Homo sapiens: one gene and its partners. The protein of the gene in region 1 purifies or fractionates together with the protein of each later gene. This does not show direct contact. Each region holds a gene or a part of one and is shown in the gene's direction. Other genes may lie near its edges.

Evidence for each region.
Region 2: the proteins of LMAN2L (region 1) and ARSK purify together in Homo sapiens (affinity purification with mass spectrometry; 2 studies listed by BioGRID and IntAct, with this or other methods). This does not show direct contact.
Region 3: the proteins of LMAN2L (region 1) and LNPEP purify together in Homo sapiens (co-immunoprecipitation; 3 studies listed by BioGRID and IntAct, with this or other methods). This does not show direct contact.
Region 4: the proteins of LMAN2L (region 1) and TENM3 purify together in Homo sapiens (co-immunoprecipitation; 3 studies listed by BioGRID and IntAct, with this or other methods). This does not show direct contact.

What each region holds. Positions count from the first base shown.
Region 1 is NC_000002.12:96,730,063-96,737,090, reverse strand, and holds part of LMAN2L (VIP36-like protein isoform 2 precursor), read left to right. Parts: intron 1-2,564; coding exon 2,565-2,682; intron 2,683-3,489; coding exon 3,490-3,572; intron 3,573-7,028. UniProt on the Homo sapiens protein: May be involved in the regulation of export from the endoplasmic reticulum of a subset of glycoproteins. May function as a regulator of ERGIC-53.
Region 2 is NC_000005.10:95,558,078-95,565,105, forward strand, and holds part of ARSK (arylsulfatase K precursor), read left to right. Parts: intron 1-7,028. UniProt on the Homo sapiens protein: Catalyzes the hydrolysis of pseudosubstrates such as p-nitrocatechol sulfate and p-nitrophenyl sulfate. Catalyzes the hydrolysis of the 2-sulfate groups of the 2-O-sulfo-D-glucuronate residues of chondroitin sulfate, heparin and heparitin sulfate.
Region 3 is NC_000005.10:96,939,078-96,946,105, forward strand, and holds part of LNPEP (leucyl-cystinyl aminopeptidase), read left to right. Parts: intron 1-7,028. UniProt on the Homo sapiens protein: Release of an N-terminal amino acid, cleaves before cysteine, leucine as well as other amino acids. Degrades peptide hormones such as oxytocin, vasopressin and angiotensin III, and plays a role in maintaining homeostasis during pregnancy.
Region 4 is NC_000004.12:182,239,429-182,246,412, forward strand, and holds the start of TENM3 (teneurin-3), read left to right. Parts: upstream 1-3,973; 5' UTR 3,974-4,048; intron 4,049-6,984.

The sequences.
Region 1 (7,028 bases):
TACGACCAGTTTACTTTTGGGCATGACTCTGGCATCCTTTGATACTTTCTCTGGAATTCTCTTAAACTAAGAACTTACTTTTTTACGTGGCTTTTCTCATTAGTTGTAGATAAGCGAATCTCAGAAAAGAGAACGATTTCTTTTCCCTGTTCAGGAGGGCAAGAGAAATTTCTACATTAGCTATCTGCACAAACTGGCCCCTTAACCTAGATCATAGTGCCGAGCTCATTTTTGGACAGAGTACAGAGCATTGTGTTTTCGTAGCAGAGATAAAGGACAGTTGAAAGACTGGGATTCTCGGTCCAGCTCTGTCACAGTCCTCCTGTGAGCCCTAGGCAGATTATTTAACTTCTTAGTTCTGTTTCTCTATCTGATAAATGAGCTTCAGAATACCTGTTTTACTTGCCCACTGGGGTTGTCGTGAGAATAAAATAGGACAATAGACATGAAAAGACTGTGGCAAGTTAAAATGGTTATAGAAATATGTGTTATGTTATTACACTTCTACAGGTTTGTTGATGGGGCTCTTGTGGGTTACCGGATGATTATGTTCAAGGCTTGATACTCTGCTGCTGTCTTGCTGGCTGTCTGTCTCTACATAACTTGTAGCAGCAGTTCTAGTATAGCCTCTAGTTCTTCCCTTTTTCGACTTCTGATACCTGTATTCGCTGTTATCTGGCTATCACCATGACTATGGGCTTGTTTCTGAGTTATTTGAATAGGATGCATTTGTTTCAGCAGTGGTTCTCAAATTTGGCTATCCATTGGAATCAATGCCTGGGTCTCATCCCCAGAGATTCTGATCTAATTGGAATAGGGTGCAGCTTGGCCATTGGGATTTTTTAAAACTCCGTAGGTGAATCCAGTGTGTGGCAGAATTTCAGAACCACAATTAGACATGGTCCTGAGCAAAACAGTATAGCATTGTGCTGTAGGAGGCCAGGAATCAGTGACAGACACCTCTTGGCTCACTGGGAACTTCTGTGACTCTGCCCTCTTCCCAGGGGCATAATACCTACCTCCTGGCAGCTTCCTGCCCCACTGAATTTCACTCTTTCTCTGAAAGCTATTTTTTTGAAACAGGGTCTCATCACTCTGTCGCCTAGGCTGGAGTGCAGTGGCACTATCACAGCTCACTGCAGCCTGGACCTCCTGGGCTCAAATGATCCTCCACCAAAGCCTCTCAAAATGCTTTGATTACTGGCGTGAACTACTGTGCCTGGCCTTTCTCTGAAATCTTTTTTTTTTTTTTTGAGATGGAGTCTCGCTCTGTCGCCCAGGCTGGAGTGTAGTGGCATGATCTCAGCTCACTGCAAGCTCTGCCTCCTGGGTTCACGCCATTCTCCTGCCTCAGCCTCCTGAGTAGCTAGGACTCCAGGCGCCCACCACCACACCGGCTAATTTTTTGTATTTTTTAGTAGAGACGGGGTTTCACCGTGTTAGCCAGGATGGTCTCGATCTCCTGACCTTGTGATCTGCCCACCTCAGCCTCCCAAAGTGCTGGGATTACAGGCGTGAGCCACCGCGCTGGGCCGTTTCTCTGAAATCGTAATGAAACAGCAGAGAGATAAGAATCCAGAGTGACAAGACAGAGACTGGCTCAATAGAGTAGGAGATTTCAGGCCCCTTGCTCAATGCAGGAGTACCCAATCCCCTTTCATTTTGACTGTGTACTTCTAATATGAACACTGTTGGAAAATATCCCAGAAATAAAGAATGAAAACTGAAAATGATCTAGCAATAGTTGCCCAGAACAGTCTATTTGGAGAGCCTTTGGCTGAACCCAGCTGGTCTGTCTGTTCTTCCTTCACTTCTTTCTTCACAGTAGACTTTTAACCAGAAGCTTCCCTAAATCAACTACCCACTCTGGTTTTTTCTTGAAACCGTTCAACTATTTAAAACACTTAACCATCCACTTGCATCCATCTTCAAGTGCATTTAAGCTTCTTGGCCATGGACGGGAGGGTTTGGGGACTGTAACTTGCTCTTCTTGTGAGAATTCTGGCTTACCCCTCAGCTTGGCAGAGGGCCAGGTCTAGCTAATTAGAGTTGTTTGTAGTATCTGCTAATTATTCCTGGAAACGTTTGCATAACAGCTTAGCTTTTCTTTTTCTACTGTAATAAATTAGGCTTTGACCTTTCTTTAAATCCAGCTTTTCAGAGTCTTTCTGTCTGAGGGGTGATCTTGAGTTGTAAATGAGTATGAATTCAGCCATCTGTACTCTAAAAGCCGAGCTACTTTGCTGGGTGGGTGTAGGATCACAGGAGTGGAGTTTGGTACACTCTTGTCTTTTCCAACTTTGGAGTTCTGTCCTGTTTCTGTTGGGAAATGTTGAAGATAATCGGGAGGTTTATTCATTTTCATATTAAATCTCTAAACAGTTGAATGGTTCAATCCGTTTAATTTTATGACATGAACACATAGCAAGTCTTAGATTTAAGTTTTAACCCTTAGTCTAGTGTTACCTGCATTTGTGTTTTCCAAGTCTGTTGATTGCTGATGTGGGCTTGAGGGGTTTTGCATTTCATGCTCCTCATTGATTCTAATGTCTTTCTCACTTTAGCCATGTTTCCTGAGAGACTGGGAGTTGCAGGTGCACTTCAAAATCCATGGACAAGGAAAGAAGAATCTGCATGGGGATGGCTTGGCAATCTGGTACACAAAGGATCGGATGCAGCCAGGTATTGGGAGCCTGTGTTACTCTTGTGTGGGTGTGACAGCCTGATTTTTCATGTGCCCTCTTTTTGAAAAGGTTCCTTCCCCACAGTGCCAGCTGTTTTCCCTCTCCCTTAATGTATGTGGATGAACACTGGCCCTTCTAGTCTCTAGAACGGGTCTGAGTCCTCATAAGCAGCTGAATTTGACTCATCCTGAGGCAGTTGCTTGCTTGTTACTTCTTTCTGAGTTTCCTTGTGAAACTACCTGGCCTGTTGGCTGGATGAAAGCACTGGCTCTCCTGAACGCTGACGATTGGGTGAGCTGATTTCTTCTGAACATTTACAGTGAATGATCTCAGCACTGCTGAGTCAAGAGAAGAGTTATCTATTTTCCTTGTGTTAGAGCTATTATTGCTCCATGTAGATGGCAGGCTCAACCTGATTTGACCTGATCTCTTTTGCAACAAGAAGGAGAACTAGGGAATTCAGTTCTCTCTTGGGGGCATAGTCTTTACCAATTGTTTGTAAAGCAGAATTCTGTAGGGGCACCTTAGCAACCAGTTTGGATCAGGAAGCTGCCTGAGTGCTAAATAAGGTTGCAGTGGCCTTCTCTCTTTCCCTTGCCTCCAACAACAAACAATTACAGATATTTACTGGGCACTTGTTACAGGCCATGCACTTTGCTGGGTACTTTTAAACATGTGTTTTCTCATCTTGAGAGAGGCTTGGGAGTCATTTGAATTTTACTTTTTCCTCCATCATAGTGATATATTATTCCTTTATCAACTCTTAGCTTTATTTCATTGTTCATCATCTGTTCTCTCTCTCTAGGGCCTGTGTTTGGAAACATGGACAAATTTGTGGGGCTGGGAGTATTTGTAGACACCTACCCCAATGAGGAGAAGCAGCAAGAGGTAATGGCAAGTGTCAGAGCCTAGGTCAGCTACACTGACATCACAGTTCTTTGCCTCAGGAATGTTGTACAGGAGGGAACAAAGGAGATAGAAAGTGAGGGGTTCTTCATCTGTTGAACTTTGAAAGTTAATGTCCTTGTCAGTGTTTTTTTCTAAAGGGACTATTTAGGAGTGCACAGTCTTTTGGGAATAGCTGTCTTGAACAGGGGCTTTTTCTTTAGTGATAATCATGTTCTCTCTTGTGCCTATTAGATAGCCACTAAAATTGAGCATGTTTGGTTGATTGGTGATTTGGCTGCTAGACCAGCACCAGAGCAAGCTGAATTTACGTAACTCAGCCTCCCCTGACTTTTAATCCATCAGTGCTGTGCTCTCTTCTGCAACTTGCACACACTTTTCAGCTTCTTTTTCTTCTTCTTCTTCTCAGACCTGAAGAACAGTTCTCCTCGCCTATAGAAAAGGCTATAATTGGCCAGGTGTGGTGGCTAACACCTGTAAGCCCAGCACTTTGGGAGGCCGAGGTGGGCAGATCACCTGAGGTCAGGAGTTCGAGACCAGCTTTGCCAACATGGTGAAACCCCGTCTCTACTAAATATATAAAAATTAGATGGGTGTGGTGGTGGGTGCCTGTAATCCCACCTACTCGGGAGGCTGAGGCAAGAGAATCACACCATTGCACTCCCCCCTGGGCAGCAGAGTGAGACTCTTGTCTCAAAAAAAAAAAAAAGAAAGAAAGAAAAGGCTATAACGAGAAGGAAACTGATGAAAGCCCAGCATTTTGTTGGAACCTAGTATCTGGCTGTTGGCAGGCCTTTTTGTTACCTGACCTAAGAGTTTTTTAGTGCTTTCTTTTTTTTTTTTAATTTTTTTTTTTTGAGACAGAGTCTCACTCTGTCGCCCAGGCTGGAGTGCAGTGGCGCGATCTCGGCTCACTGCAACCTCTGCCTCCCAGGTTCAAGCTATTCTTCTGCCTCAGCCTCCCGCGTAGCTGGGACTACAGGCGCATGCCACCACACCCAGCTAACTTTTGTATTTTTAGTAGAGACGGGGTTTCACCATGTTGGTCAGGATGGTCTCGAACCCCTGACCTCGTGATCCGCCTGTCTCGGCCTCCCAAAGTGCTGGGATTACAGGCGTGAGTCACCATGCCCGGCTATTGCTTTCTTATATTGACAGTGGGTTTGTACTCTCTCTATGTCCTACGGCACTGCCATCAGATGGTGGGAAATTATGACAGGTTGTTGCTGGGTATCCTGTAGCTAAGTACCTAGCGAGGAAATCAGGATTAGAAATAGAGGCAAAGGTCACATTATTTTTTTCCTCAAAGGTTTATTATGAAAATTTTCAAACTTAAAAAACATTAGAAGGCCAGGCATGGTGGCTCACGCCTGTAATCCCAGCACTTTGGGAGGCCGAGGTGGGCAGATTACTTGAGGTTAGCAGTTTGAGACCAGCCTGGCCAACATTATGAAACCCTGTCTCCACTAAAAATACAAAAATTAGTATTTTTATTAGTATTAGTGTTAACCTGTAGTCCCAGCTACTTGGGAGGCTGAGGTGGGAGAGTCACTTGAACCTGGGAGGTGGAGGTTGCAGTGAGCTGAGACCACGCCATTGCACTGCAGCCTGTAATCCCAGCTACTCAGGTTGCTGAGTCAGGAGAATGGCTTGAACCCAGGAGGCGGAGGTTGCAGTGAGCTGAGATCACACCACTGCACTCCAGCCTGGGCAACAGAGCAAGACTGTCACCAAAATAAACAAAAAAAATTAGAAGAATAGAGAATGATCATTGTATCTGTGATGCTTAGATTCAACAGCTGTTAACATTTCCCACAGAACTCACTTTTTATTTTTTATTTTTTTTATTTTTTGAGATGGAGTCTCGCTCGTCTCCAGGCTGGAGTGCAGTGGTGCAATCTCGGCTCACTGCAACCTACATACACCTCCTGGGTTCAAGCCATTCTCCTGCCTCAGCCTCCTGAGTAGCTGGGATTATAGGCACACGCCACCACGCCCAGCTAATTTTTGTATTTTTAGAGACAAGGTTTCACCATGTTGGCCAGGATGGTCTCCATCTCCTGACCTCAGGTGATTCCTCCACCCTGGCCTCCCAAAGTGGTGGGGTTACAGGTATGAGCCACTGTGCCCAGCGAGCTCACTTTAAAGGTGGTGGAATGTGAGACCTGAGTTAGGAGAATAACCTTTTGTTGTGGATCAGTTACAGCTGCTTCTCTGTGTTCCTTCTGGGCTGTTCTTCATTCCACATACATTAACCACTTTCTAGGTGCCAGGCCCTGGGAATTAGTGAGCAAGATAACATGGTCCTTGTACTCAGTAGCACTGAGAATGCTGATGGGGGAACTCTGGGGCACTATGGGAGGACACAGCAGGAGCTTCTAACCTGAAGTGGGGCAGTAGTGTTGGTGGTAGTGGGGAAGGCTTCTTCCAGGAAGTGCCTTTTAGGTTGAGGTCTGCAGAGTAAGGAACCCGTGTCCCATGCAGAGGGAAAAAAGCCGAGGTCCTAAGGTTAAGAGAGGGGATGATGAGGCTGGGTGCAGTGGCTCATGCCTGTAATCCCAGCACTTTGGGAGGCCAAGGCGGGTGGATCACGAGGTCAGGAGACCGAGACTATCCTGGCCAACATGGCGAAACCCCGTCTCTACTAAAAATACAAAAATTAGTCAGGTGTGGTGGCATGCTTCTGTAGTCCCAGCTACTCAGGAGGCTGAGGCAGGAGAATCGCTTGAACCTGGAAGGTGGAGGTTGCAGTGTGAGCTGAGATCACGCCACTGCACTCCAGCCTGGGCGACAGAGTGAAACTCCATCTCAAAAAAAAGAGAGAGAGAGGGGATAATGAGTGTGTGGAAATAAAGTAGAATCAGAGACAGATGAGGCTAGAATGAAAAGCAGGGCCAGTAGTCTTGTTATGTTGCACAGTTCCTAGGGCTGCTGTTCACCTTGCATTCTACAATATTAACACTGTAGCCTCGGCATGTTAACTAGCCGCTGAGACTGACTGGCATCTGCTTGGGTGGTTGGTGGCTGAACTGTTTAGATGAGAGCCAGAGCAGACTGAATGTATGTGACTCATGCTCACCATATACCACTTGGGGCCAAGTTCTGAAGGATTGTGTTCCTGTTGAGGAGTCTGGACTTGATTCTGAAGGGGTAGGTACATTAAAGGATTTTATTGAAGAGAGGATCATGACTGGATTTGTAGTCATGCTGAGGAAATAGTGGTAGTTAGAAATGGATCTGAATAAGAGTTATCAGCTTTAGGGCCTGACAAGAGTTTTAAACTTGTCTCTCTGTTTCTTCCAGAAACAAATTGTTCAAACTCTGTTAGCTTCCATTTCACCATGAGATAGTAGTAATTCTGGTTTGAGAAAGTAGAAATTCTGACTTGGGTTTATTTTGTAAGGATTTTGTAGATGTTAATTAAAAAAAATTTATTTT
Region 2 (7,028 bases), on another chromosome or scaffold:
TATCTCACCAAAAGGGACAGGCTGTGAGATTTCTCATCTTCTCCTAATCCAAGTTGGAGAGGTTAAATTCCTAATGAATGCAGCTGAGAAGTTGAGGGCTCCCTTACTTCAGTCAGCCCCCACTTACAGGACAGAGGCTTTATGCCAAGTGCGGAAAGTTGAGAATCCTAGGGCCCTAATTGCCCTGGCCCTAGCTCTCTAGTAGGACAGAGGTTCCATACCAGGAGAGACAAGCTGAGAAGACCAAACAAGCTTCTGCAAAGCAAGCAGAATGGAGGAAATAATAAGGATTAGGGCAGAAATTAAAGAAACAGAGGATGGAAAAATAGTAGAGAAAATCAATGAGACCAAAAATTGGTTCTTAGACAAAATCAGCAAAATTGACAAACCTTAGCTATACTGAACAAGAAAAAAGACAAAAGAGCTAGATGACTAAAATCATGAAAGAGAATGGTTACATTATCTTAAGAAATAAAAGAATTACAAGGGAATACTTACATACAACAACTGTATGTCATCAAATTAGATAAATGAAATGGACAAATTGCTAGGAAGGCAGAAACTACTGAAACTGACTCAAGAAGAAATAGGCAATCTGAATAGACCTATAAGAAGTAAAGAGGGTAAACTGGTAATTTTAAAACTACCAACAAAGAGAAGCACAGACCCAAACGGTTTCACTGATAAATTCTACCAAATACTTAAAGAATAATTAATACTAATTCTTCATCTACTCTTCCAAAAATTAGGAGAGAACACTTCCAAACTATAAGACCAGTTTGGCCGGGCGCGGTGGCTCACACCTGTAATCCCAGCACTTTGGGAGACCGAGGTGGGTGGATCACCTGAGATCAGGAGTTCGAGACCAGCCTGGCCAACATGGCGAAACCCTGTCTCTACTAAAAATACAAAAATTAGCCAGGCGTGGTGGCAGGCACCTGTAATCCCAGCTACTCGGGAGGCTGAGGCAGGGAGAATTGCTTGAACCCAGGAGGCAGAGGTTGCAGTGAGCCGAGACGTGCCATTGCACTCCAGCATGGACAAAAGAGCAAGACTCCATCTCAAAAAACAAAAACAAAAAAACAGTTCATGCCTGATTCCAAAGCCACGAATACATCACAAGGAAAGAAACCCACAGACCAGTATCCCTTAGGAATATAAGAGCAAAGATCCTCAACAAAATGGATTTGGCCCTCCATATTCACAGGTTCTGAATCCGCAGATTCCACCAATCTCAGATAAAAATATATGGTATTTATGGGATGTGGAACTCACAGAACTTGACTTTTCCTATCCATGGGTTCCACAGGGCTGACTGTGGGACTTGAGCCCGCAAAGATTTGGTATCCTTGGGAGGTCCTGGAAACAATCCCCTGCAGATACCAAGGGACAAATGTACTAGGAAACCAAATTCATTAGTATGTAAGAAGGATTATTCACCATTACCAAGTGGAATTTGTCCCCAAAATGTACAGTGAGTTTAATATCTGAAAATCAATTAATGTAATACATCATGTTGACTGAATAAAGGACAAAACCCATGTGATCATCTCAATAGATGCAGAAAAAGCATTTGAGAAGATTTGACAATCCTTATGCATTCAACTGGCTAGAAATAGAAGGGAACTAAAAGGCATCTACAAAAAAAGCCAGAACTTTACACTGAATGGTTAAAAGAAAAAAAAAATCAGTTTTCTGACTAAGATCAGGAAGAAGACAAGGATGTGTGTTCTCACCACTGCTATACAGCATTGTACTGGGGGTTCTAGCCACAGAATTAGAAAAAAGATTAAATAAAAGGCATTCACATTGGAAAGGAAGAAGTAAAAGTATCTATACTTGCAGTAATCTTGTATGTAGGATTCTACGGCTCCACTACAAAACTATTGAACTAATAAATTAGTAAGGCTGTATACCAGATCAGTGTACAAAAATAAATTGTATTTTATATACTTAATTGATTAACACACTTATAGTCAAATTAAGAAAACAGTTCCATTTAAAGTAACATCAGAATGGATGAAATACTTAAAATAAATCTAATCAAGGAAATATAGTTCTTATACTCCGAAAACTACAAAACATTGTTGAAAGAAATAAAAGAACATTTAAATAAATGAACAGACATCCCCTTTTCATGGATCAGAAGATTTAATATTGTTAATATAGCAGTACTCACCAAAATGATCTACAGATTCAATTCAATGCCTGTCAAAATCCCTAGAACCTTTTTTTTTTTCTGCAGAGATGGAAAAACCCATCCTAAAATTCATATGGTAATTCAAGGGACCCAGAATAGCCAAAAATAAATCTTGAAATAAAAAGAACAAAGTTGAAAGACATACACCTCCCAATTTTAAAGCTTATATCTTAACTACACCAATCAATGTAGTATGTTATTGGCTTAAGGATAGGTGACATACAGATCAATGGAATAGGATCTAAAGTCCAGAAATAAACTCTCATATTTATAGTAAATTGATTTTTTAACAAGGGTGCCAAGACCATTTAATAGGGAAAGAATGATCTTTTAAACAAATGGTGCTGGAAAAAAAAAATATGAATGAAGTTGGACCCTGCCTTGCACCATACACAAACACACAAAAAAAAACTTTAAGTAAATTGATTGATTAATCAAATGTAAAACTAAAAAACTCTTACAAGAAAACATAGGTGTAAGTCTTTGTGATTGTGGATTAGGCAATTAAAAGATGGGCAAAAGATCTTTTTTTTTTTTTTTTTTTTGAAATGGAGTCTCGCTCTGTCACCCAGGCCGGAGTGCAGTGGCGCAATCTCGGCTTACTGCAACTTCTGCCTCCCAGGTTCAAGCCATTCTCCTGCCTCAGTCTCCTGAGTAGCTGGGACTACAGGTGCCCGCCACCACACCCAGATAATTTTTTAATTTTTATTTTTAGTAGAGATGGGGTTTCACCGTATTAGCCAGGATGGTCTCGATCTCCTGACCTTGGGATATACCCGCCTAGGCCTCCCAAAGTGCTGGGATTACCGGCATGAACCACCATGCCCGGCCAAAAGATCTTAATAGACATTTCTTCATAGAAGATACGCAGATGACAAATAAATACATGAAAAGATGCTCAACATCATTAATCATTCGGGAAATGTAAATCAAAACCACAGTGAGACACCAGTTATACCCACTGGGATGGTTATAATGAAAAAGACAATAACTAGAGATGGCAACAATGTGGAGGAATTGCAACCCATACCCTGCTGGTAGGATCACGCAGCCATTGGAAATCAGTTTGGCAGTTTCTCGAATGGTTAACCATAGAGTTGCTGTATAATCCAGCAGTTTTACTCCTAGGTGTATATTCAAGGGAAATGAAAATATAAGTCTACACAAAAACTTCTACATGAATGTTCATAGCATTATAATGTTCATTATACATAATGGCCAAACAGTATAAACAACCCAAATGCCCATCAATTGATAAATGGATAAATAAAATTTGGTAATATTATTCAACAATAAAAAATATGGTATATGCTACAATATAGATGAAACTTAAAAAGATTATGCTAAATGAAAGAAGCTAGTCAAAAAGGACCACATATTGTATGATTCCATTCATATGAAATGTCCAGAAAAAGCAAACATAGAGCCGGAAAGTAGGTTAGTGGTTGCCTAGGCTTCAGGAAAATAGAGAGTAATGGCTAAAGAGTGCAGAATGTCTTTTGGGGATGATGAGAACATTCTAAAATCGACTATGGTAATGGTTGCACAGCTTTCTGAATACACTAAAAACCATTGAATTGTACACTTTAAATGGATGAGTTGTTTAGTGTGTTAATTATATCTTAATAAACCCATTTTTAAAAGAACAGAAAACAGGCTAGGCACGGTGGTTCACACCTGTAATACCAGCACTTTGGGAAGCCACGGCGAGCAGATCACCTGAGGTCAGAAGTTCGAGACCAGCCTGGCCAACATGGTGAAACCCCATCTCTACTAAGAATACAAAAATTAGCCAGGCATGGTGGTGGGCACCTGCCCAGCTACTCGGGAGGCTGAGTCAGGAGAATCGCTTAAACCTAGAATACAGAGGTTGCAGTGAACCGAGATTGTGCCACTGGACTCCAGCCTTGGTGACAGGGTGAGTCTCTGTCTCAAAAAAAATAAATAAAAATTTAAAATTAAATAAATAATAGAAAAGAAGCATCTCTGCCTGGGTCTTAAAGGACAGAGGCATCTTCTGCATCCCCACTCCTACTCCTACCTCTACTCCCTGCCACTGCACCTGTATCAGTTTTAGTTTTGCTGAGGTTTCAGGAGTGGCAGGGGAGAGTAGGTACAGGAGTGTTTACTAGAGAGTCTAGTGAGAATCTCATTCAGTCTGATGGACAGATCTGGGAAGAACACTATAAGCAGTCTTGCCATGCTGACATGGCAAATTAAAGTTGCTGTTACATTCTTTTATTAGGATGATTAATTCAAACCTAAACTTCTCTGATTCTGCATGGCCCATAATGATAAGGAACCGAGTACAAGCCATGGTTCAGAAGGAGCAATCAAAATCACAAAATTGTATCTACAAAAAGACTTACCCACCCCAAGGGGGAAAAATGTGTGGACCCATGAGAATTAATTAACAAGAGCAGAATGCAGCAACTAAAGGCAGTTGGTACCATTTCTGTAACTTTTGCAGAAAGCCAATTAATGGGTCATTTTTATTTCTTAAATGCCCAATTTTAGAGTGCTTAATTTGTTTGAACCATAGGAATGGCCTTGAGAAAATTGAAATGGGCTATTAGTAAGTTATAGAAGTTATAACAAAAGCCATTTTTCAAGATTTTCTCTGCCAACTAAATTTGACAGAACTGTGTTTTCACTTATAACTGGCTATCCATTGTAAACCACATTAACATACTATGGAAAACTTACTTTCTCTCTTTTTCATCAGCCAGCTGTGTTAAGATGCCTTTCAGTTCAGAATGAAATATTCTACTGACCGTCTCCCATTGATACCATTATCAGCAGTACTAGTAGTAGCCTAGTTTTTAAATGATTTGTTAGTGTGTAAAAACTACATGAAGTCAAAAACCAAAACTTCTAGAAAATTTTTAAATATTTTCTCTAATAACATTTTGGTCTTCGTTTAGAGTATTATTGATATTTCTGATATTGAGAATATGTATATCATAATTTAAATATTTCCTAGGAACCAAATTTTGCAATTGATATGCTTAATCCAGTTTATTAAGCTTTGCAAAAATACACTGTTGAATTTTGAGCATAAATTTGTCTTCTTTTTTAAATTGAACAAATCTCTGGATTAGAGATTCATTTCATTTCATTCACTGAATATTTGCATACCGCTCACTGCCTTATATATATCTCAGACAGCAATCTTAACATAGATCACCTTTCACTGATGGAATCGTTGGGAACTTTCCCACATGACGGCAGTCGCCCCCTCCCTTTCTGGTTATCTCTGCCACTATATTTCAAAGAGTCCTGCTTTCCAGCCTGCTTTTGATACAGATAATGTCCCTGTACTAGTCATAGAGATGAGTCAAGAAATCACTAACATCGATTTTAATCTGACACATTAGTTATTGATATGCTGCAGTAGTCATTTGCAGTGGTAGTTACACCAATTTGAACCTAGCCTGCAGGACTTGGAGTCCAAATCCCAATATGTGAATTATATAGCACCTTTAAGACAGTTCTACCTTGTGACCTTCTGCTCCATCCCCCAACCAGATAAGCCTGGGTTGTCTAGATTCTAGGCAGTGGCCACAAATTGTTATCTCCCCATGTTCAAAAGATTGTAACCATAAGACATATATACATTTGGAATTTGTGAGGATAAATTTCTGAGAATTTGAATTTAAGGGCTTAAAGAAATTCTCATGAGGGAGGGCTATGCACTTTTTTTTTTTTTTTTTTTTTTGAGATGGAGTCTTGCTCTGTCACTCATGCTGGAGTGCAGTGGCGCCATCTCAGCTCACTGCAACCTCTGCTTCCCGGATTCAAGTGATTCTCTTGCCTCAGCCTCCCGAGTAGCTGGGATCACAGGCACCTGCCACCACGCCTAGCTAATTTTTGTATTTTTAGTAGAGACAAGGTTTCACCATGTTGGCCTGACTGGCTTTGAACTCCTGACCTCAGGTGATCTGCCTGCCTCAGCCTCCCAAAGAGCTGGGATTACAGGCATGAGCCACTGTGCCTGGCCACTATGCACTTTTGTCTTCGCCTTTCTAGCTCATCATTGAGGAAATCAGTAGTTATTTGCTTAGCATTCAATGATTACTCTTGCTAGAAGTGGTAATTTATTTTGACATAAGACATGCATAATTTTCCCCATCTTAAAAAAAGAACTGACTTTAATCCCACATTTTCTTCCAGCTAACACACCATTCTCTAACATCCCTCCCGTTTTTCTGTTTTGCTTTGCAAAATAACTTCTCAGAAGAGCTTTTCTTTTTTCCCCCTGCTGCCTCACTTTCCTGCCTCCCATTCCTTCCCCTTTCCAGTTTAGCTGTTCATCTTTACCACGCATCGAAAGTGCTCTTGTCAGGGTCACCAGCTGTCTCCATACTGCCAATTCCAATGTGCATTTTCTGGCCTCATTTCAGGTGCATTCTCAACACAGCAGATGTTACCTCTTTCTTGGCACACTGCCTTCTCTCAGCTGTCATGGCACTCGGTCTCCTCACATCTTCCTCCCTTGGCCATTCTTTCTCAGTTTCCCATGCTGTTTCCCCTCTTATTTGGGACTCCTTATAGCTTCCTCTAGACCCTTTTCTTTCCCCTCCTTCTCTCTCCCTGAAAGGTTTTATTTAATCTCACAGTTTTCAAAACCATGAATATGTTAAATACTCCCAAGTTTTATTTCGCCAAGATAGACTTCTCTCAACTCCAGATTCCTATCTGTATCCAACAGCCTACTTTATATCTCTATTTGGGAATCTCAGCTATCTCAAGGATTTAGATATATTCTATATTTTGGGTTGGCTCATGTTCTAAACTGGAATTTATTTATAATTATGTTGAAAACATA
Region 3 (7,028 bases), on another chromosome or scaffold:
CATTTGCATGCAGGGTTGGTATATTTTGTAAAAACTTAAATTCATCTTAAGAAATGCAAATGCTAAGGTTCACCCTCAGAATCTGATTAAGGAGGTCTGATTATATATGAAATACATACTAGAAAGTATGTATACTTTCTTTTTTTTTTTTTTTGAGACACAGTCTCACTCTGTTGCCCAGGCTGGAGTGCAGTGGCACAATCTCAGCTCACTGCAACCTCTGCCTCCCGGGTTCAAGTGATCCTCCTGCCTCAGCCTCCCGAGTAGCTGGGATTACAGGCGCCCGCCACCATGCCCAAATAATTTTTGTATTTCTAGTAGAAATGAGGTTTCACCATGTTGGCCAGGTGAACTCCTGACCTCAAGTGATCCGCTCACCTTAGCCTCCCAAAGTACTGGGATTACAGGCATGAGCCACCGCGCCCAGCTGAAAGTATATATACTTTCTAGTTTGTGATATATTCTAAAGTATATCTAAAGGTTGGTATTTTGGCATTTTGAGGTCCCAGAACTGAAAACATAAATAGTTTTTTTTTTCATATGAATGTAGGTCCTATGAATCACTTTTATTACCGCAGTGTGGTGCATAATCAAACAAGGAGGACTTAGTTGTCTTAAAAAATTATTTTTGCTTTCATGTTCAGATTGGTATCCAGTTGAAAGTATTTTTCAACTTCAAAAATGGGAAGTCTGGGCAACAAATGAGATATTTGTGGGTTGTAATACAGTATAAAATTGTGATTCCATCTTTTAATCTTACAAATAACAATTGTTCTATAGATATGTGAGTCTTTTTAAAAAAAAATTTTTAGCATCACTTCTCAAAAATGTGAGCATACCACATTTTGTTTTTATTTTTCTTTTGCTCTATGATAAATTTCCACATTGAAAGACAACTCTTAAGAAATAGGAGCTCATAGTTTCTCTGTGTGATGGAATATAAGTTAAATCCTGTTTTTATCTTTCTGTCTTAAGTTTTTAATTTTATTTGGGGGAAATAAGACTGTTAGGAATTAAGTGTTAGCATCACTAACAATCTAGGGTTAAAGCTATAGCTAGAAACAGCCCAGTTTTTAACTGGAAACTAGTGGTAGAAAAGTTCTTTGCTATTACTTGCCAGTTTCCAAAAACTGTCTTGATACATGCATAAAAACAGCATATTTTAGAAACTCTTATAACCGGTGATTATCATTTATCTGTAGGTTATCCTTGAGAACTCAGCCTGAAAGATAGATAACCAGAGAGATTGGTTATAAGGAAATTATATAGAAAATAAGTGGTAATTTTCTGCTCAGTAATTCAATCATACAGCTATCTTTTGAATGCCCATTTACAAGTAGATTTTCTGCTAGACACAGTTACATTAAAAAAAAAAAACCCACAACCTCGTCATCAGATAATGCTTACCTAAATAAGAGAAATGAATAGAAGAACCTAGTTTTGTTGTCATGCTAATATGAAATATGGAAACACAGAAGAAATAAAAAAGCAATAAAGTTTTGTCTAAGACAGTATTCTAATTATGAAATAAATGTACAGAAACTGTTCATAACTGTTTGCATGTCTACTAATTTAGTGTAATACTCCTATTAGGAAACAGCAGTATTAACCCTGTCTATGAAAACATTAGGAAATTGAGATTTGAAAGAGTTTAGCCAAGATTACCCCAGATGTTGGGATGGACCTAGATGAGGCCTGTGGTTCTTGGCAGTCGAGGTGAGGTCAGTGCAGCTATGTTTTGTCAATTAGTCACCTCATGACTTGAAAACTGTAGGGCAGCAGTCCCCAAACTTTTCGGGACCAGGGACCACAGTCGGGGGGATGTATGTATACTTTCTAGTTTGTGATATATTCTAAAGGGGAGAAGGTTTGGGGATGACTCAAGTGCATTATATTTATTGTGCACTTTATTTCTATTATTATTGCATTGTAATATACAATGAAATAATTATACAACTCACCATAATGTAGAATCAGTGGGAGCCCTGAGCTTGTTTTCCTGCAAGTAGACAGTCCCATCTAGGAGTGGTGGGAGACAGTGACAGATCAGGCATTAAATTCTCAAAAGGAGCACACAACCTAGATCCCTCACATGCGCAGTTCACAATAGGGTTCGTGCTCCTATGAGAATCTAATGCCACCACTGATCTGACAGGAGGTGGAGCTCAGGTGGTAATGCTAACGATGGGGACTGACTGTAGAGATGAAGCTTCACTTGTTTGCCTGCTGCTCACTCCTGCTGTGTGGCCTGATTCCTAACAGGCCAGAGACTGGTACTGGTCTGTGGCCTTGGGGTTGGGCAAACCTACTGTAGGGGGCTGGAGTTGAGCTGATACTACTAGGCCTTTCCATAGTATAATTGGAGCAACCAGAAAGACACAGTCTTTTATTTATTTATTTATTATTATTTTTTTAATTTGAATCCGTAGATAAATTTCAGCAACTTTTCTGAAAGTTTGCAAGAAGCCAGGATTGAGAATGAAGGGACATTTTGGAGCCCTTGTGGTGGTACAGTTCTTTTTATATCTAGATCTTGACCTAGATCTACATATGGCCGTTATAGAGAGTGTTGCTTATTGCCTTGGTGTTTCTGGACAGTAAATGGAACATCAAGAGTTCTCTGTGTCCATGGAAGGGTGGACAGGATTCCCTTGTAACCTTATCCATTGTTGTAATTCATTTGTGATTGTCCTAGCAGCACCTGAAGGACTTTGCATTTTACAAAGATGTTTAGAGAAAATTGGAAGAGGAGAATCAATGATGAAGATGAAAGAAATGTGGAGATTGGGGGTAAAGGAAGAAGCTGATAGGCAGAGATTTTAAAAATGGTCATGCCTTGATCCTTGCAAGTCTTTGGTTCAGAAATGAGCTTCAGTTGGAGAGCAGGACACTGTTGTATGAGGTTGAAGACAGAGTCTAGGTTGGAAGGGGACAGGTAGGTAGGTCTGGTTGGATTAATGGAATTGGGGGCTCAGGGGACAAATGAGTTAAGATTGGCATTTGGGAGCCTTGCCAAGAGATAGAAAACATTTGCCAGAAATTTAAGCATACTGTCTTTTTTATAGTCAGAAAATTCAGTCACTCGTAAGTTGGGACTGTTCACTTGTCTGAATGTTTTAGATTTAAAGAAAAAATATAGCTCTTTGATAAACAACGTGGTGTGGAGCTGTGGTAAGCCTGCTCTTGCTCCTGACTCACCGCCGCTCGCTCTCACCAAAAAACAGGTTGGTCAGGAGATACAGAAAAACGCCCATGAAGCCAGAGGTGGCAATTCACTGAATTAGAATCACTCTAGGCCCAGCGCGGTGGCTCACACCTATACTCCCAGCACTTTGGGAGGCTGAGGCAGGCGGATCACCTGAGGTCAGGAGTTTGAGGCCAGCCTGGCCAACATGGTGAAACCCTGTCTCTACTAAAAATACAAAAATTAGCTGAGTATGTTGGCACGTGCCTGAAATCCCAGCTACTCGGGAGGCTGAGGCACAAGAATCACTTGGACCCAGGAGGCGGAGGTTGCAGTGAGCCGAGATCGTGCCACTGCATTCCAGCCTGGTGACAGAGCGAGACTCCATCTCAAAAAAAAAAAAAAAAAAATACGAGAACACTTGGACACAGGGTGGGGAACACCACACACTGGGGCCTGTCATGGAGTCGGGGGAGGGGGGAGGGATAGCATTAGGAGATATACCTAGTGTAAATGACGACTTAATTGGTGCAGCACACCAACATAGCACATGTATACATATGTAACAAACCTGCACGTTGTGCACATGTACCCTAGAACTTAAAGTATAATAAAAAAATAAATAAATAAAAAGAATCACTCTAACGAGCTGCAAGGTAAAATCCTTGGAGAAGGTGTGTGCCGACTTGATCAATGGATCAAAGGAAAAGAATCTAAAGTGATAGGACCAGTTTGAATGCCTACCAAGACTTTGAGAAACATTACAAGAAAAACTTCTTATGAAGGTTCTGAGACATGGTATTGTTTCCAGATGAGAATCCATAAGTGACTCATTGACTTCCACAGTCTTTCTGAGATTGTTAAGCAGATTACTTCCATCATTATTGAGCCAGGAGTTGAGGTTGAAGTCACCATTGCAGATGCTTAAGTCAACTATTTTAATAAATGATTACCAGTTGTTTAAAAAAAAAAAAAAGAAAACTATAGAGAGCTATCTACCTTTTGGGACTACCATGGTAGCAGTCATTTGCTGTTCCTTTTTTTGGGAGGGACGGGAACAGGGTCTTGCTTGGCTGGAGTGCAGTGGCACGGCCACAGCACTGCAGCCTTGACTTCTCAGGCTCAAGCGATTCTCCTGCCTCAGCCTCCCGAGTAACTGGGACCACAGGTGCACACCACCATGCCTGGCTAATTTTTGTATTTTTTGTAGAGATGGAGTTTTGCCATGTTGGCCAGGCTGGTCTCGAACTCCTGGGCTCCAATGTTCTGCCTGTCTTGACCTCCCCAAGTGCTGGTACTATAGGTGTGAGCCAGTGCGGCCCTGTGGCCAGCCTACTATTCTTTATAGCCTGGCTTTGCTTCACTTTTCTACTGGTGCTTGTGATAGAACAATGAACCAATTAATTTTTTTAAAATTCCATCCTTAACATGTAAATGAGGAGGAAACCAGGTCATTTGCCAAATAAGGAAAATTCAAGCTTCCAAGGGAGTTTCAAAAAACAATGGAGGATCAAGTTCAATTGTAGGAGACTTTTTGAAATTCTTTTTCTTCTAATACATATTGCTTAATGAAGGTACTCCTGGGCATTCCACATATTTCAAAAATGTAGTCACTGAACCAGAACTTGAATCAGTTGTCTGAATTTCTCTGGATTGTGGGGCTCAGAGTCTTCTCCAGCCAATGATCTGGGGTGAAGGAAGTTAAAGAAGGCTTCTTCAACTGAGGGAACAGAAGAATGAGGAGTGCAGTGAGAAAAGGATGCCTCTATGGGTTGGGTGTGCTCCCTTCCTCTTGCAGCAAGTGATGAACAGTGCTATGTGGGAGCATTTCCCGGACAACTGACTCAGGTGTCATTCAGTGCCATAGAGAAAATTTCTGGTAAGGAAGGAGGCTTAAGCCATAGTATTTCTCACAGCTGAAACTGTTATTTTGTCAAATTTAAAACAGTTGTTAGTATATTCATCAATGAAACATCATTACATTGTCAATGAAACATTTCATTGTCAATGAAAAGAGTCAAACTGTAAAATCTTTAAAGAGGCTTATTCTGAGATAAATAATGTGTGACCAAGGCCCAAAGCACAGTCTCAAGAAGTCCTGAGAACATGTGCCCAACATGGTTGGGTTACAGCTTGATGTTATACATTTTAGGGAGACAGAAGTTATAGGCAGACAACAATCAATACATGTAAAGTGTACATTGGCTCAGTCTGGAAAGGGGATAACTCAAAGCGGGGACTTCTATTCCAGTTCATAGGTGGATTCAAAGATTTTCTTTTTTGTTTTTCTTATTTTTGCTTTTTTTTTTTTTTTTTTTTTTTTTTGAGACAGAGTCTCATTCTGTCACCCAGACTGGAGTGCAGTGGTGCAATCTCAGCTCACTGCAAACTCCGCCGCCCAGGTTCAAGCAATTCTTGTGCCTCAGCCTCCTGAGTAGCTGGGATTATAGGCATGTTGCCACCACACCCAGCTAATTTTTGTGTTTTTTCAGTAGAGATGAGATTTCGCCATATTGCCCAGGGTGGTCTTGAACTCCTGGCCTCAAGTCATCACCCACCTCAGCCTCCCAAAGTGCTGGGATTACAGGCATGAGCCACACATGTGGCCACATTCAAAGATTTTCTGATTGGCAGTTGGTCGAAATAATTAAGTTATTATCTAAAGACCTGGAATCCATAGAAAGGAGTGTCTGGGTTAAGATAAGGTAAGGGGTCATGGAGACCAGGGTTCTTAATATGTAGACGAAGCCTCCAGGTAGCAGGCTTTCAGAGAATAGATGGTTATTATCTCTTATCAGAACGTAAAATGTGCCAGACTCTTAGTTAAATCTCTCCTGGATCAAAAAAAGACCTGGGGTGGTGCAGTGGCTCACACCTGTAATCCTAGCACTTTGGGAGGCCAAGGCAGGAAGATTGCTTGAGGCCAGCAGTTCAAGACCAGCCTGGGCAACATAGTGAGAGCCTGTCTCTACAAAAAAATTAAAAATTAAAAAAAAAAATTAGTCAGGTGTGATGGTATGCACCTGTGGTCCCAGCTGCTTGAGAGGCTGAGGTGAAAGGATCACTTGAGCCTGGGCAAAGTGGAAGTGAGCTGTGGTCATGCCACTGCACTGCAGCCTGGGCAAGAGAGTGAGACCCTATCTCAAAAAAAAAAAAAAAAAAAGAGATCAGAAAGGTCTTTTTCTATAGAATGTTCCACACAAGAGACAGCTTTGCAGGGCCATTTCAAAATAGGTCTAAGAAATATATTTTGGGGTAAAATACCTTTATTTCTTTCACAGCCTGCTATCTGTTGTGTGATGTTATACTAGAGTCAGTTTAGAATTTGGTATTTTATTGCTACAAAGAGTGTTTCGTCAGTCTTAAGATCTCTGTTTTAATATTAATGCTGGTCAGTTGTGCCAGAATTCCAAAGGGAGGAGAGTATAATGAGGTGCGTCTGACCCCCGCTTCCCATCATAGCCTGAGCTAGTTTTTCATGTTTACTTTGGAATGCCCTTGGCCGTTCAGTCAGAGGGGTCCATTCGGTCAGTTGAGGGGCCTAGAATTTTATTTTTGGTTTACAAAATCATTCCAAGATCCTCTTTAGAGGAAAAATTTATAGAGATTAGTGGGAATGATGAGGAGAACTCAATCTTGAGAGCTCAATCAAAAGGAGATGTTTAAATATCTTTTTAAGTTGGTATTGGTAAAGTGCTTTGAAGACAGAAAGAATGTAATACATGTCTGGTGTCTGCTTGTCCTATAATTGTCGGAAGGGCCTCAATGATGAAATAAGGGAGGCTGCCATGACACTTGAGTCTTGGTGAGAGGAGCTAGTGTGTCCACATTTATCAAGATCACC
Region 4 (6,984 bases), on another chromosome or scaffold:
CTTTCATTGCTTAATTTATTGAATTCTTTCCATTATTAGTAAAATATATTTTGTTTCTAAAAGCTGGCAAGAAACTTACTAAAATACTACAGTCTAACATTTAGCATGCTGCAAAAACTTTGACATTGTCATACAAATAAGTGGATTCTTCAAGAGTTCAGGTTATCTTGCAGGAAAAAGATGATTTAGTTTTATAGAGTTTCCTTCTTGAAAGAGGTCTAGTTAGAAAAGATTTCAAACCAAATAGGGGCGGAGACAGGGTAGGGAGAAAATACCACTATGGATACTTCAAATGAAATAAGAAGGAAGGACAATAATATCTAATATTTGTTGCTTATAGTAATACTGTATCCCAAATAATCGCAAAAAAAGCTTTACTGGAAAAAAATCATTACACCTATCTGATTATAAAGAAGAAACAAAAATTGATTAGTAGTTTGCTATTTTCAAAGTGTAAAAATAGGGTAATTAATGCTAGATCATTTGACACTTTGGTTTTCTAAAATTAAACTTCTCAGAGAAATAGATTCAGGAAGAAATTTCACAAAACAACATTAATTAAAATGGCTGGGAAAAAAACAATACTGTAATAACAGTTGTAGAGTAGTGAAACTGGGGGAAAGTTAAGCAGCATTTTTTGCTTTGCTGATGACTGCAGTGGGGGAACTTCTATGGGGAGAAAAAGTGGATATTGGCTGTTGCCTTAATTAAACTCATGATTTATGAAGACCCTGGTTAGCCACAGCCACCCGGATATTTCAGAGCGAGAGTCAGAGCCTATTTAGTCTGTCACTGACTCTGAGTTTGGGAACCATAAATAGGCCTGCTTGTGTTGGGCTTGTCTTGTCATGGACGTCCACTGAGATCAACGGAATGCCAGAAGTGACCCAGCAAGTAGGAGAGAGACACGTTCCTACGAGAGACACAGAAGAGCGCTCCCCACATTCTTTAAATATTTTCTCCCGGCTATCATCATAACCTCTGTCTTATCGGGATTAATCTTTTTCTGGCTCACTTTGATCCCAGTCCCCTGTTAGGCTCCTCAGATGCTGAATACGTTGTGAAACTGTGGTGTCAGGATTAGAGATAAAAGGGGAGATGTAGACCATGTGTCATCAGCATGCTGATCTCAGAGTGAAAATGCCTGACTTTTCTTCAAGTTATCTTGCGTGCACTTTGAGCATGTGGGTGATTACCATCAGAGCCTGGCAATTCTCCCTGCGAGTCCCGGCCCTGCAGCCCACGAGAGCAGGGAAAGGCAGGATCTAGCAGGGTGTTCCTCATGGTGCCATTCCCCATGGACACAGCCTGGGAGGTCTTCTGTCCACCCAGAGAGCCTGGAGCAGGGAGACAGTAAGGGCCTGGGATGGAATGCAGCTCCAGAGGCTGCTGTTTTGCCTGTTTGTCATAGGATTACTGTATTACAGGGCTTTGAGACCAGCCTGCTATGTCCCCTCAGATCTGGCCTCTGAGGCCCCTGGGCAGGATGGCATTTTCACTGCCTCTCTTTCCCGCTCCACTGACCTTCACTCAGTATTTCCTCCTTCTCTGAAGCCCGCTTCTCATCACCACCTACAGCCTCAAGGATGCCTGCTTGCATCTTTGAGGCTTTTGTCATCGGGCTTGAAGATTTTTTTCCACATGGTCCCCTTAATCTGCTCCCATTCTTGACAGTTTAACACTCGTGCTGAAATTTCATTCCTTGCAGAGTTGGGATTTTCATGTGAATCGTTATAGCTTCTCTCTGGTTTACCATTGGCTTCCCAGAGCTCAGCTTCTGGGCACTTAATAAATGTTCATTTAATCAATTACTATCCCAATACTTTGTTCTCTTGTAACAACAGTTTTCACCTCCATTTCTGACAATGCTTTCTTCTGATTCATTCAATAATGAGAGGTCAACACACATGTTCTCTGTTTTTCTCTAACAAAAAAGACATGCCTTCATCCCTTCTTCTGTTCAGTGGTGCCCCCTCTACCTGGGCCCTGTGTGGCATTCCCCTCTGCTTCCTCTGGATCCTTGGCTCCATTAATTTTTTTCCACATTCTCCTATCTTCAGTCGCTTCCTTTTCCCTTTCTTTTTTCTTTCTTTTTTTTTTTTTTTTTGTGAGGCGGAGTCTTACTCTGTTGCTCTGTTGCTATGCTGCGATCTTGGCTCACTGCAACCTCCGCCTCTCAGGTTCAGGCCTCCTGCCTCAGCCTCCTGAGTAGCTGGGACTACAGGCATGTGCCACCATGCCCAGCTAATTTTTGTATTTTTAGTAGAGACGGGTTTTCCCATGTTGGTCAGGCTGGTCTTGAACTCCTGACCTCGTGATCCACCTGCCTCGGCCTCCCAAAGTGCTGGGATTACAGGCATGAGCCACTGGGCCCGGCTTTCCTTTTCCCTTTCTTTTTCCAGACAGGTAAAATGCACAAGGCTTGACCGTTCTTTTAAAAACGCTTCTCCACTGAAATGACTCTCCGTGGTCACAAATAACCTCTTTATTCCTGAAGCCAGTGGACCCTTTTCAGTTTTGCTCTCATCTGTTTTCTCCACTGTCAGCCACATGCCTTTTCCACCAATTTGCCTTCTTTTTTTTTTTCCTCTCTCTTTTTTTTTTTTTATTTTACTTTAAGTTCTAGGGTACATGTGCACAAGGTGCAGGTTTGTTACATATATATACATGTGCACAAGGTGCAGGTTTGTTACATATATATACATGTGCCATGTTGGTGTGCTGCACCCAATAACTCGTCATTTACATTAGGTATATCTCCTAATGCTATCCCTCCCCACTTCCCCCACCCCATGACAGGCCCCGGTGTGTAATGTTCCCCTTCCTGTGTCCAAGTGTTCTCATTGTTCAGTTCCCACCTATGAGTGAGAACATGCGGTGTTTGTTTTTTTTTCCTTGCAATAGTTTGCTGAGAATGATGGTTTCCAGCTTCATCCACATCCCTACAAAGGACATGAACTCATCCTTTTTTATGACTGCATAGTATTCCATGGTGTATATGTGCCACATTTTCTTAATCCAGTCAATTTGCCTTCTTAAAACTTCTTGGTGGCCCAGCACGGTGGCTCATGCTTATAACCCCAGCCCTTTGGGAGGCTGAGGTGGGTGAATTGCTTGAGCCCAGGAGTTTGAGACCAGCCTGGGCAACATGGTGAAAACCCGTCTCTACAAAAAATACAAAAATTAACCCGATGTGGTGGCACTTGCCTGTGGTTCCAGCTACCTGGGAGACTGAGGTGGGAGAATCACCTGAGCCTGGGAAGTCGAGGTTGCATTGAGCTGAGATTGCGCCAGTGCACTCCAGCCTGGGTGACAGACTGAGGCCCTGTCTCAAACAATAAAACTTACTGGTTTTCCTGCCTGATTGCTTTCTCTGAACTGTACCCTAGATCTTCCTACCGTGGTGGTTCAGATGAGAGATGATGGTAGCCTGTATGTGGGTAGTGCTTATCAGAGATGGAAATAAAATTGACAAGAGTTGATAATGTATTAGAAGCGGAGGCTAAGAGAGAGGTAAGCAAGATAATCACTAGGTTTCTGACTTGCATAATTGGGCGGTGATGTCATTCACTGAGATTAGAAGCATTCCAGGGCGACTATGTGGTAGAGAGGCTACAATGAATTCAACTTTAGATGTATTGGAGATGTGTTTAGAATGTCTTAAGGGTAAATGTCACATAGGCTTTTATTTATTTATTTATTTGAGACAGAGTTTCGCTCTTGTCGCTCAGGCTGGAGTGCAGTTGGGTGATCTTGGCGCATTGAGACTTCCACCTCCCGGGTTCAAGCAATTCCCCTGCCTCAGCCTCCTGAGTAGCTGGGATTACAGGCATGCACCACCACGCCCAGATAATTTTTGTATTTTTAGTAGAGGCGGGGTTTCACCATGTTGGCCAGGCTGGTCATGATTTCCTGACCTCAAGTGATCCGCCCACCTCGGCCTCTCAAAGTGCTGTGATTACAGGCATGAGCCATCGCACCTGGCCATGAAGGCTTTTAGATGGGTCTGGAGCTTGGAGGAGAAGTCTGAACTAAGGATAAACTAAAGGTAAGTTGCTGAGTCATCTGTAGAGAGGTGGGAATTGAGGGCACGGATGAGACAGCCTAGAAGAAAAGGAGGAGAAGATGAGAAGAGAGTATCGAGGTATTGGAAACTGGGGAGGGCAGACAAGTCTAAAAAGGAGACTGGAAAAAAGTAGTTGAAGATGGAGAGGGCAAATCTGGGCAGTGTTGGGACACGGAAGCTGAGGAAAAGAGCAGTTCAAGATGCTTGAAATGAACACACCAAAAATACTGTGAACTATTCAGCACGTCCTTGTTTTATAAGTAAAATTCATAGTCACATCAGCGAAATAATTTTAAATGTATGTCTGTTGACTTAAATATTGGTTTTCTTTTGTGACTGAGGTTCCAGTACTTAGGAAAGGAAATGAAAGAGAGGCAGGGCACTCAGGGCTGACTGTCTTCTCAAAGTGCTAACTGATAGACTCTTCCAAGAATGGAATCATTTGTGTTTTCTTTTTTTTTTTTTTTTTTTTTTTTTGAGACGGAATCTCGCTCTGTCGCCCAGGCTGGAGTGCAGTGGCGTGACCTCGGCTCACTGCAAGCTCCGCCTCCCGGGTTCACGCCATTCTCCTGCCTCAGCCTCCCGAGTAGCTGGGACTACAGGCGCCCGCCACCACGCCCGGCTAATTTTTTGTATTTTTAGTAGAGACGGGGTTTCACCATTTTAGCCGGGATGGTCTCGATCTCCTGACCTCGTGATCCGCCCGCCTCGGCCTCCCAAAGTGCTGGGATTACAGGCGTGAGCCACCGCGCCCGGCCTCATTTGTGTTTTCTATTAAAACATATAACCCAGGGTATTAGACCACCATGGTGGTCACGGCGATCACAAAATATTTTTAACTGGTTTGCTGTGAGCTGATTTAGTGTTCTGAAATTTTATTATCTTGACTGGTAGAATTATTGGAACCAGCCATACATGTTAGAGTGATTGACAGCTACTTCTGATGAGGCTTTTATTGGATCTCAGGCAGCCTGCAAGTCACTGTCCTTTGCATTCAGATGCATTTATTTCCACAGCCTCCAGGGTAGCTAATGTTATTTTTCCTTCCCATTCCGAAATTTTAAGATGCCTCAGCTTTAGCCTGGCTCCTAAACTGATGGACAAGAGGAGAATATGAAGAGGAAGACGGGTCTCCTGGAATCCTCAGTTCCCAGGCTCTTCCCTCCAGTGGTCCAGGAACACTTTTGTCCCTGTCATAGATTTGTGTAATTCTCATGATGTGTAACATATGGAAAGAAAAACCAAGTTTTGTGTAGCCTAATAGATAGCTGTTTAGGAAACCATTCCAACTGTCCAGCTTTCTGAGAGTTTGCAAATATCACTTTACTTCTTACATTAATAGAGCCTCATGCAAATCAAATCATGTTGAACTTTATTAGCTATGCTTGATGTTATTTATGTTCTAATTAAATTAATGAGAATCTTGCATTTCTTCACAAAATTAAATTTCTAGAGTCTCTTTTTATTGTAATGTCTACATTCCATAATCAATGAATGCTTTTAATCCTCTGCAGTGATACTTTCTAGTGTTTTGGGAATGAAGCAAAGGCTTCAGAAACATTCAAAACAATCGAGTGTTAGGCTGTGCTATTGTTTGTTTAATGGGCAGAGGTCACTTGCTATGGGAATACTGAGGGTCTGCATGCTGGAATCATTCTCTTTTTGCCCAGGATGGGATCATTGGGTGAGTTTACTTAATCCATGGGCTTTGTTTCCCAAGACTGTGTCAGGGAACAAGACACAATTGTTTCCAGCCCCAGAGTCCTCTTGAGAGAGTGGCTCCAGCAACTTTGCTCTGTCTCATGTGATGTAGCATCCTCCGGCATCATTTAGAAAAGTGAAAGAGCAAGTAGAAAGGAATCTATCTGATCTTCATTTCTTTGCTGTTGTTGTTGATTTGTGTCACACATTGCTTCTCAGGTGGCCCCAAGAGTAAATCAGAAATTCCAATTGAGATTGCAAATTTTGTTTTAATTCTCTGTTGCTTTTCCAGCAATCAGTGCTTTCCTTTAAATTCTGTCTCGTCTCCTAAATGAAGGCAGCGTCGTGGCCCAGTTTGGGTCTCTGTTTAGCAACTGTGGTCTGTTTGAACTGAGGCAGTCCACATGTTACTTCCATTCTTTAGATTAATGTGATGACCGTAGTCCCTGCCAGAATCTTTTGGAACCAGTTATCCCAGGATATTGACATGTGACACGGCCATAGGACTGAAAACTTCCTCTCTTCCAGGGCCAGCCACAGGAGAGAGAAAGGGATTAAGAGGCTACTGTTGTGTCAATGCTGCAACTTGCTTTAGGACTCTGAGCTGGTTTCTTAACTTTTCCGTTGATGAGCAATAAAACCAGTAGAACAATAACTGCCTTCAGTGATTTTACAGATTTGTGTTAGTTAATAAATATAGGAATTTAGGGAAAGCTGTTTCTGATTTATATTTGATACCGATGTAACATTTTATTGGCGGGCGCTCCTGCTGGATCCTCACTCTGTGGTTAACAGTGACTCCTTTTCTGGTAGCACTCCCTGGCTCTGCAAGTCACGGGAAATAGCGTAAGAGCTCACTTGTCTCTTATGTTGAACAAACAGAGGCAGCAACCGCTATGGCAGAGGGTGGCACCTTCTGGCTATGTGTTTTCCTAAGTGGCCTGAAATGAAACTCCTAGAAGTTGTCTCATTGATAAAATGAATGCAATCTAGGTACCACTAATTATCTAACCCCGGGTCATCAGCAGGATTTACCACCACTGCCAGCAGCCCCAAGGCATAGGGGAAGAAAGAATTTTTTAAAAAGAAGTCATGGAAGCAACACAGAGAGAAAAACAAAGCAGCGCTTATGAATGAGATTCGCTATGAGCCCCCACCCCCGCCCCTCAGGAATAACATTTTAGATAAGCAGTGGACACGAAGCAGGCCCCGCTCTG